Linked DNA regions of Homo sapiens: region 1 is linked to region 2. The links come from fine-mapping of genetic effects on gene expression. A gene starts in region 2. The other region holds a variant in brackets. All regions are shown on one strand. Distances are between the middles of the regions.

Region 1 (4,000 bases), 180 kb before region 2:
AAATCATCAAATACTTAAGAATAAATCTAGCAAAAGCTGTTCAAAACCTCTGTAATACAAACTAAAAAATATTGAGATAAATTAGAGAAGAACTAAATGGAAGGATATACAATGTTCATAGATTGAAAGACTCGATATTATGAAGATATCAGTTCTTCCCCAAATGAATCTATGGATTCCAAAAAATTTCAATCAAAATCTCAGCAGTATTTGTACAAGTGAGAGTCAGTGTTTGTATGGGTGTGTTTTTGTGGACACCTGTAAAAGTCATAGGGAACTGTAAAGGACCAAGTATAGTCATGGTGGTCTTAAATAAGAAAAATAAATCTGGAGGATTATTACTACAGACATCATGATCTTGTATGAAGCGACAGTACTTAAGACCGTAAGTGTGAACTATCATTTGGGCCAGCTGGATATTTGTCTGGAAAATGGTATAACTTGATTTCTGTTTTATATCCAAATCATTTAAATTGGAAAAGTAAATAAAGCTTTTAGATTCCCTTTTCTGGATGCTTTTACATGGTTCCTGATATTTAGAGGGTACTTTCTTTTTCTTCCCTCTTTCTTCTTCTCTAGCCCCCTCCCCATCACCTACTCCATCTGCTCCCCAGCTTCCTCTTTAATTATTGGATAACTAAGTAGAGAAGGAGGCCAGGAGAATGTGGAAATGTGAAACTTCCCTAAGCCTCCACCTTATTCGCTTTCCACCAGTCTTTAACTTTACCCAATGGACTCTCTGACCTCAGGGAACTTTTGTAGGCTTTTGAGTGATTTTAACTTTTCCCTGTTTTACTGTGGAATGCTCTATCCTGTGGTCTTCGGTATTATTTCCCATGTTATTGTATATTATGCTATTTAGGTAGAAACTTCATAGAATGCACCTTAGTTTTATCATTGCTTTGTACATTAGTATCCATTACAAAGTGATAATAATGAATGAGTTAATATTGTCTGAATGCAGGCCATTCCCAGATATGGGCTCTCTGAGACGAAGATATTTAATTTGCTGTGCTCAAAGTTTTAATTCTTTTTGGTTCTAATATTTTTTCTCCTTTTTTTTTCTTTTTGCTATAGTCACTAATTTCCAGAAGCACATGATTGGTATATGTGTCACGTTGACAGTCATAATTGTGTGTTCTGTTTTCATCTATAAAATCTTCAAGATTGACATTGTGCTTTGGTACAGGGATTCCTGCTATGATTTTCTCCCAATAAAAGGTATAATTTTGTATTCCATGCAGTATTTCTTGTTGGAGATAAGGGATAGTTAGGAGATGTAGAAGATGACTAAGAGGGTTTTTACTAAGAGGGTTTCTAAAATGAAAAGTGGCATATACAAGAATACTAGTTATTCTTACACAGAATTATAGTTTTAGAACTCATTAGGCTGAATATCATTGTTTTCTAAGTTCCTGCCTCAACATTCATATTGGTAGAATAAACAGGTATTTAGAGCATCTGTTTATAAATTCAGTTATGCACAAGCCATTGGTAGGCCTTGCTCTGTGATGAATAGGACAGACAGAGATCATACCTTAATGAAAGAAATGAAATGACTAGATCTTCATGCATCAGGGAGG[T/TTC]TCTCTCTCTCCTTTGTTTAAACTTTGCGAAAAAAAAAAAAGGAATACCACAATATCTAAAAAAAAATGAATGGATAGAATTCAGGGCTGAGACCTCTGGGGAAGAAGATGAGGACAGGGAGACTTTAAGGATGGCTCTATACTAAGAGTATACGAGGCAGCCTCCAAATAGAAGAACAAATTTGCAGTAAAACACAAGAAATAGAAACCTTGTAAGAGATGAACACTTTTTAAAGGGATTATATTTTTGGTATTGCTGCTTCAGTCATGCCATTGTATAAAAAAAGATGAATAGTTCATTATGTAATGAATGTTTGTGATACTGACTTTATCAAATCTCTTATTTTTGCCTTGTGGTTCTAAATACATTATGTTTTTCCTTTAGCTTCAGATGGAAAGACCTATGACGCATATATACTGTATCCAAAGACTGTTGGGGAAGGGTCTACCTCTGACTGTGATATTTTTGTGTTTAAAGTCTTGCCTGAGGTCTTGGAAAAACAGTGTGGATATAAGCTGTTCATTTATGGAAGGGATGACTACGTTGGGGAAGGTATGTGTGTAATGGAACAGAGTAAAGGCTTATTGTTGTAAAACTACTTAGTAAAATGTGGATTCCATCTTTCTAGAAGATCGTGGCATAGGGGTATATGTTTCACAATTTTAAGAACCTCTTCAGAAGTGTATGATGATTTTTACATTTATTAAATGCATTTACTTCTCTCATATTTTGTCAGAGCAATAATTAAGTGATTTTCATTTAGTTTTGAAAAACTTAATGACTAGTTAAACCCAACAGTTGCTTTACAACTGATACAATTAAACAGGAGTGGTAGAGATCAAATGATTGAATAATAAGTTTTTAAAATTCCAACAAAGTTTTCTGAGTTCTAAATGAAATATTTGTCTTTTGAGGGCCAATTTTTGAGTTAGTCTATAAAATGGGAGGTTTGCAGTGGCTCATGCCTTTTATCTCAGTACAACCCTGGGAGGCCAGGGTGAGAGGGTCACTTGAGCCTAGGAGTTTGAGGCTGCAGTGATCCAAGATCACGCCACTGCGCTCCAGTGTGAGCAACAGAACAAGAGACTGTCTCTTAAAATTAATTAATTAAAAACATGGGAAACTCCTTTAATTTTAAGTAAGACAAGAAAAAGGCATTAGGAGCCATACGGTTGTGAAAAGCCTTGTGTGGCTTTGGTTCAGGAGAGAATGATGATAAATAGAATTTTACTTACTATATTGTGCTTCCTGTTTTTCAGACATTGTTGAGGTCATTAATGAAAACGTAAAGAAAAGCAGAAGACTGATTATCATTTTAGTCAGAGAAACATCAGGCTTCAGCTGGCTGGGTGGTTCATCTGAAGAGCAAATAGCCATGTATAATGCTCTTGTTCAGGATGGAATTAAAGTTGTCCTGCTTGAGCTGGAGAAAATCCAAGACTATGAGAAAATGCCAGAATCGATTAAATTCATTAAGCAGAAACATGGGGCTATCCGCTGGTCAGGGGACTTTACACAGGGACCACAGTCTGCAAAGACAAGGTTCTGGAAGAATGTCAGGTACCACATGCCAGTCCAGCGACGGTCACCTTCATCTAAACACCAGTTACTGTCACCAGCCACTAAGGAGAAACTGCAAAGAGAGGCTCACGTGCCTCTCGGGTAGCATGGAGAAGTTGCCAAGAGTTCTTTAGGTGCCTCCTGTCTTATGGCGTTGCAGGCCAGGTTATGCCTCATGCTGACTTGCAGAGTTCATGGAATGTAACTATATCATCCTTTATCCCTGAGGTCACCTGGAATCAGATTATTAAGGGAATAAGCCATGACGTCAATAGCAGCCCAGGGCACTTCAGAGTAGAGGGCTTGGGAAGATCTTTTAAAAAGGCAGTAGGCCCGGTGTGGTGGCTCACGCCTATAATCCCAGCACTTTGGGAGGCTGAAGTGGGTGGATCACCAGAGGTCAGGAGTTCGAGACCAGCCCAGCCAACATGGCAAAACCCCATCTCTACTAAAAATACAAAAATGAGCTAGGCATGGTGGCACACGCCTGTAATCCCAGCTACACCTGAGGCTGAGGCAGGAGAATTGCTTGAACCGGGGAGACGGAGGTTGCAGTGAGCCGAGTTTGGGCCACTGCACTCTAGCCTGGCAACAGAGCAAGACTCCGTCTCAAAAAAAGGGCAATAAATGCCCTCTCTGAATGTTTGAACTGCCAAGAAAAGGCATGGAGACAGCGAACTAGAAGAAAGGGCAAGAAGGAAATAGCCACCGTCTACAGATGGCTTAGTTAAGTCATCCACAGCCCAAGGGCGGGGCTATGCCTTGTCTGGGGACCCTGTAGAGTCACTGACCCTGGAGCGGCTCTCCTGAGAGGTGCTGCAGGCAAAGTGAGACTGACACCTCACTGAGGAAGGGA
Region 2 (4,000 bases):
AAATCCTCAAGTCAGTATAAGTCTCTCAACTTTGTTCATCTTTGTCAAGATTGCCCAGACAGGCCGGGCAGGTGGCTCACCCCTGTAATTTCAACACTTTGGGAGGCTGAAATGGGTGGATCACCTGAGGTCGAGAGTTCAAAACCAGCCTGACCAACACGGAGAAACCCTGTCTCTACTAAAAATACAAAAGTAGCCAGGCGTGATAGTGCATGCCTGTAATCCCAGCTACTCGGGCGGCTGAGGCAGGAGAATCGCTTGAACCCGGGAGGCGGAGGTTGCAGTGAGCCGAGATCGCGTCATTGCACTCACTCCAGCCTGGGCAAGAAGAGCAAAACTCCGTCTCTGTCCGGACAATCCTAGATTATTTGCATTTTCATATGAATTTTAGAAACAGCTTCTTAATTTCTTTGAAAAATTTTCCTGGGATTTGGATTGAATTGTATTAAATATATAGATTCTGTAATATATAGAGTCTAAAAATATACAGTGTGGAGAATAGATGTCTTAAGTCTTCCAATCCGTAAACGTGGTATATCCCTTTATTACTTAGATGTTTCATCTCTGTTAGCAATATTTTGTAGTTTTCACAGGAGATATCTCATATATTATCCAATGAATTTATACTTTGGTATTTTGATTTTTAAATGCTATGGTAAATGGCATTTTTAACAAACTTCACTTTTCAAGTTTCCATCTCTAATATATAGAATTGCTATTGATTTTTATATTCCATGATCTTGATAAACTTAATATTTCCAGTAGTTTTTTTTTTTGTAGATTTCAAAAGTTGGTCTACATATAATTATGCTCTCTGTTAAAACCAGTAGTTTTAATTCTTTCTTCTCAATCTTTATGCTTTCTAATTTTATTTTTATTTCTTCACTTGTTGCAAAGCAGTTGTCCCAGGTGGGAGCCAAAATCCTTATCTCATTACTAATCTTAGGAAAAAGTAAAATGTTTCACTATTATGAGGTCACCTGTAGGTTTCTTATAGATGTTCTTTATCAGATTAAGAAAGATCATTTCTACTCTCGGTTTTCTGATCGTTATTAATTCAGAAAGGGTGTTGAATTTTGCCAGATGCTTTTATTTGCATTTATTGAGATAATTACATATTTTTATTTATTATGTGGTGAATTATCTAAATTGGGTAAAAAGAATTAAAATCATTGTCCAATTGAACATTTTGCCTGTCGGCTATGGGTTTCCCTTTTCCTTTGGTTAAATAACAGTTCTGCCACAAAATAAAAATCTAGAAACACACATTCCCCTTTGGCCTCCTTAAAAAAAATTAAAACTTCAACAATTGCACCCCTCTCTATTACTTCCCTATAGTGAACTCCCATCCTTCTGGGAAAGCAAAAAGCCTGGGGCGCATTTGTGTACTTGAGACGCGGAGCCCCTCTCACCTTCGGCATCCCCCGGGGACCCCTCTTCCACCCTCAGCCCTCCCCTCCTCTTCCTCTGAAGAGCCGGGCGGCCGCTGCGGCCAGCGGTCCTCCCTCCTGGCATCCTCTGCTGTGAACCGCGGCCTGCAGGGTGCTTGCGAGCGGCCCGGGCGCGCCCCCTTCCGGCCCCGCAGGTCACCCGGCTACAGCCCGGGTTTTCCCGGGACCCGCGCCGCGCGGCTGGGCAGGAAGCGCCAGACGCCTGGGGCCCACGCCGTCCGCGGGAAAAGGGCAAGGCGCTGGGTTTTCCAGCAGCAACCTTTGGACCCCGCGATCCAGTAGCTCCGGTAACTCCACGCGGGGCGTCTGGGTGGAGGAGCCGGTCCTGGAGCACGGCTGCGAGGAGCACCCGGACCGGAGGGTCCCCAGACCGGGACCTCCGAGTCAGGGAGGATTCTACGCCAGGGAGCGCCCCAGACTGAGAGCGCCCCAGACCGCTACACTCCCGGACCCGGAGCTTCGCCCGACCGCGGGCAGTGCCCACCTGCAGCCTCCACCGGCCGGGGTTAGCAGCCAGGAGCTGCCAGACGCCTGACATTCTTCTTTCTGTTCCTACTTTTTTTCCTTCTTCTTCTTTTTTTTTTTTTTTGTAGCCCTCTCTGGGTGCCTTATCTCTTTAATCACACCTCTCTTTCACTTTCCACGGTAGTCAGGAGGCGGAGATCGCTGCTTCTCACCTACTTTCTGAACTTGGCCTCCGCAGTCGCGACCTGGCGTGAAGGAGGAGCTGCCGCCCCCGCCCCAGCCTCGGGGACGCCTCTCTGAAGGTAAGGGTGGGCTCCGCTGCCACCCGCATCCCCTCCCCACCCCCCAGAGGAAGGGAAGACCACCATCCGGGGAGGGATTCTCAAAACAAGATCAATTAAGAGAGAGAGAGAGATAGTGTGTGTGTGAATACGTGTGAATAATTGATGAGACAGCATCCTGTCTTTCTCTGAAAGTATAGTTTTAGAAATTAAGACATCCCCAATTATTTTCTGGAGAGGTGAGAACGACTGAAATAAATGATAACAATAGTTGTCATTTTTTAAGTGCTTACTGTGTGCCTGACACTGTAGAAAATTTTTAGATATCTTATTTTCACTTAATCCTCCTAAGGGCCACATGAAATAGGAACTATTATTATGCTTTAATAAAAGGGAGGAGGAATTCCGTCATTTACCCAAGAGTATCCAGCTACTAAGTAGTAGATCCCAGATCCACACCTACAGTTTTTCTGATTCCAGAGCCTTTGTCTTTTTTCTGCCCAGCCTTGGGAAGTTAAAATGCCCAGCACCTTGCATCGCAGTTATCAGACAAATTAATGAGGTGTCAATTGCAGCCAGATACAGAGATCCAAGATTATTGTATTCATTTCACTGACTTCCCTTGCTTCATTCTCAAGACCCTTTGCAAATACTGATTTTGTGTCATACACAGTGCTGCTATTGGGAGCACACCTCTCAACCTCAGGGCCTTGGATGGGCTAGGAGGGGTAAATTTGGGGAATTGGGTTTGTGCAGGTTCTGGGGACAGTGTTTTCCCTCTCCCTGCACAAATATACATCCAAAGGCTGAGAACTAAGGCTAAGGCCTAGGAATGTGGATTGAAAAGGCAGGGTCTAAATCCCAGCACTTGGGAGGCTGAGGTGGGCGGATCATGAGGTCAGGAGATCGAGACCATCCTGGCTAACATGGTGAAACCCCGTCTCTACTAAAAATACAGAAAATTAGCCAGGCATGGTGGCATGCATCTGTAATCCCAGCTACTCGGGAGGCTGAGGCAGGAGAATCCCTTGAACCTGGGAGGCAGAGGTTGCAGTGAGCAGAGATTGTGCCACTGCACTCCAGCCTGGGCGACAGAGTGAGACTCTATCTCAAAAAAAAAAAAGAAAAAAAAGAAAAGGCAGGGTCCCTGCCTTCAGGGACCTCACCAGAGAGTGGGAGCTAGTCCAGGAGTGATGGAAACACCTGCAGAGTGATGGAGACGGGCTTGGACATAGGCATGTGCCATTTGGGGCTGTTGCAGTTGGAGAGCTTCCTTGAGAAGGCAAATACTGAGCCAAGTTGAAAGGACTCTAGGGACCTGGCATCTGGGATAAGTGGGGAGGGTGGCCCAGGTAGCACAGGCATAGGCAGATTTGGGGGGAAGCATAAGGCTAACAACAGACACTTGTGTGACAAGGACTATGAGGTGGCATTGATTTTCTTGGCCTTACAGATGAGAAGCCAGATTCCACACAAATTATTTTGTTTGTTAGAGTTTAAGCGTGTGTGTGTGTGTGTATGTTATGCCCCAAGATCATTTTCTCCTCTTTGCATTTGGTTGTTTTATCATCTCACAGGCTGAGTAAAACGACTATGCATGGAACACTGTAGAAGAAAAATTATATTAAAAAAAAACTGGTGTTATGATTTTCATCCAGGCATTTTGTCTCAGGAGTTGCTCGATTGTATGTGTTGCTAATGAGTGATTTATATTGAGGCATCTACATTGATTCATGTGTGTCCTTGTGAATAGCTGTAATCTGAGGCTGGCCATTTCACTTCCTCAAATCTCAGGTTCCTCAT

Evidence for each region. PIP is the estimated chance that this variant, and not a neighbour inherited with it, causes the effect. A credible set is the group of variants that fine-mapping cannot tell apart.
Region 1: its variant is the best candidate, but not a certain one, in a credible set for the expression of IL18R1 in thyroid (GTEx, PIP 0.76).

Annotation. Positions count from the first base shown.
Region 1 is chr2:102,173,510-102,177,509 of GRCh38, forward strand. It overlaps IL1R1 (interleukin 1 receptor type 1), which reads left to right. Exons shown (of 12, transcript NM_000877.4): 10 at 1,078-1,221; 11 at 1,969-2,136; 12 at 2,844-4,000. The coding sequence ends at 3,250. All of the region lies in intron 2 of IL1R1-AS1 (IL1R1 antisense RNA 1), which reads right to left. Among named protein-coding and RNA genes, the nearest start is that of IL1R1-AS1, 6.6 kb to the right of the region's middle. The variant T/TTC (reference allele first, on the strand shown) is at 1,584.
Region 2 is chr2:102,354,183-102,358,182 of GRCh38, forward strand. It overlaps IL18R1 (interleukin 18 receptor 1), which reads left to right and starts at 1,614. Exons shown (of 11, transcript NM_003855.5): 1 at 1,614-2,218. RefSeq lists an enhancer at 1,383-1,884 and silencers at 1,479-1,588, 1,609-1,668.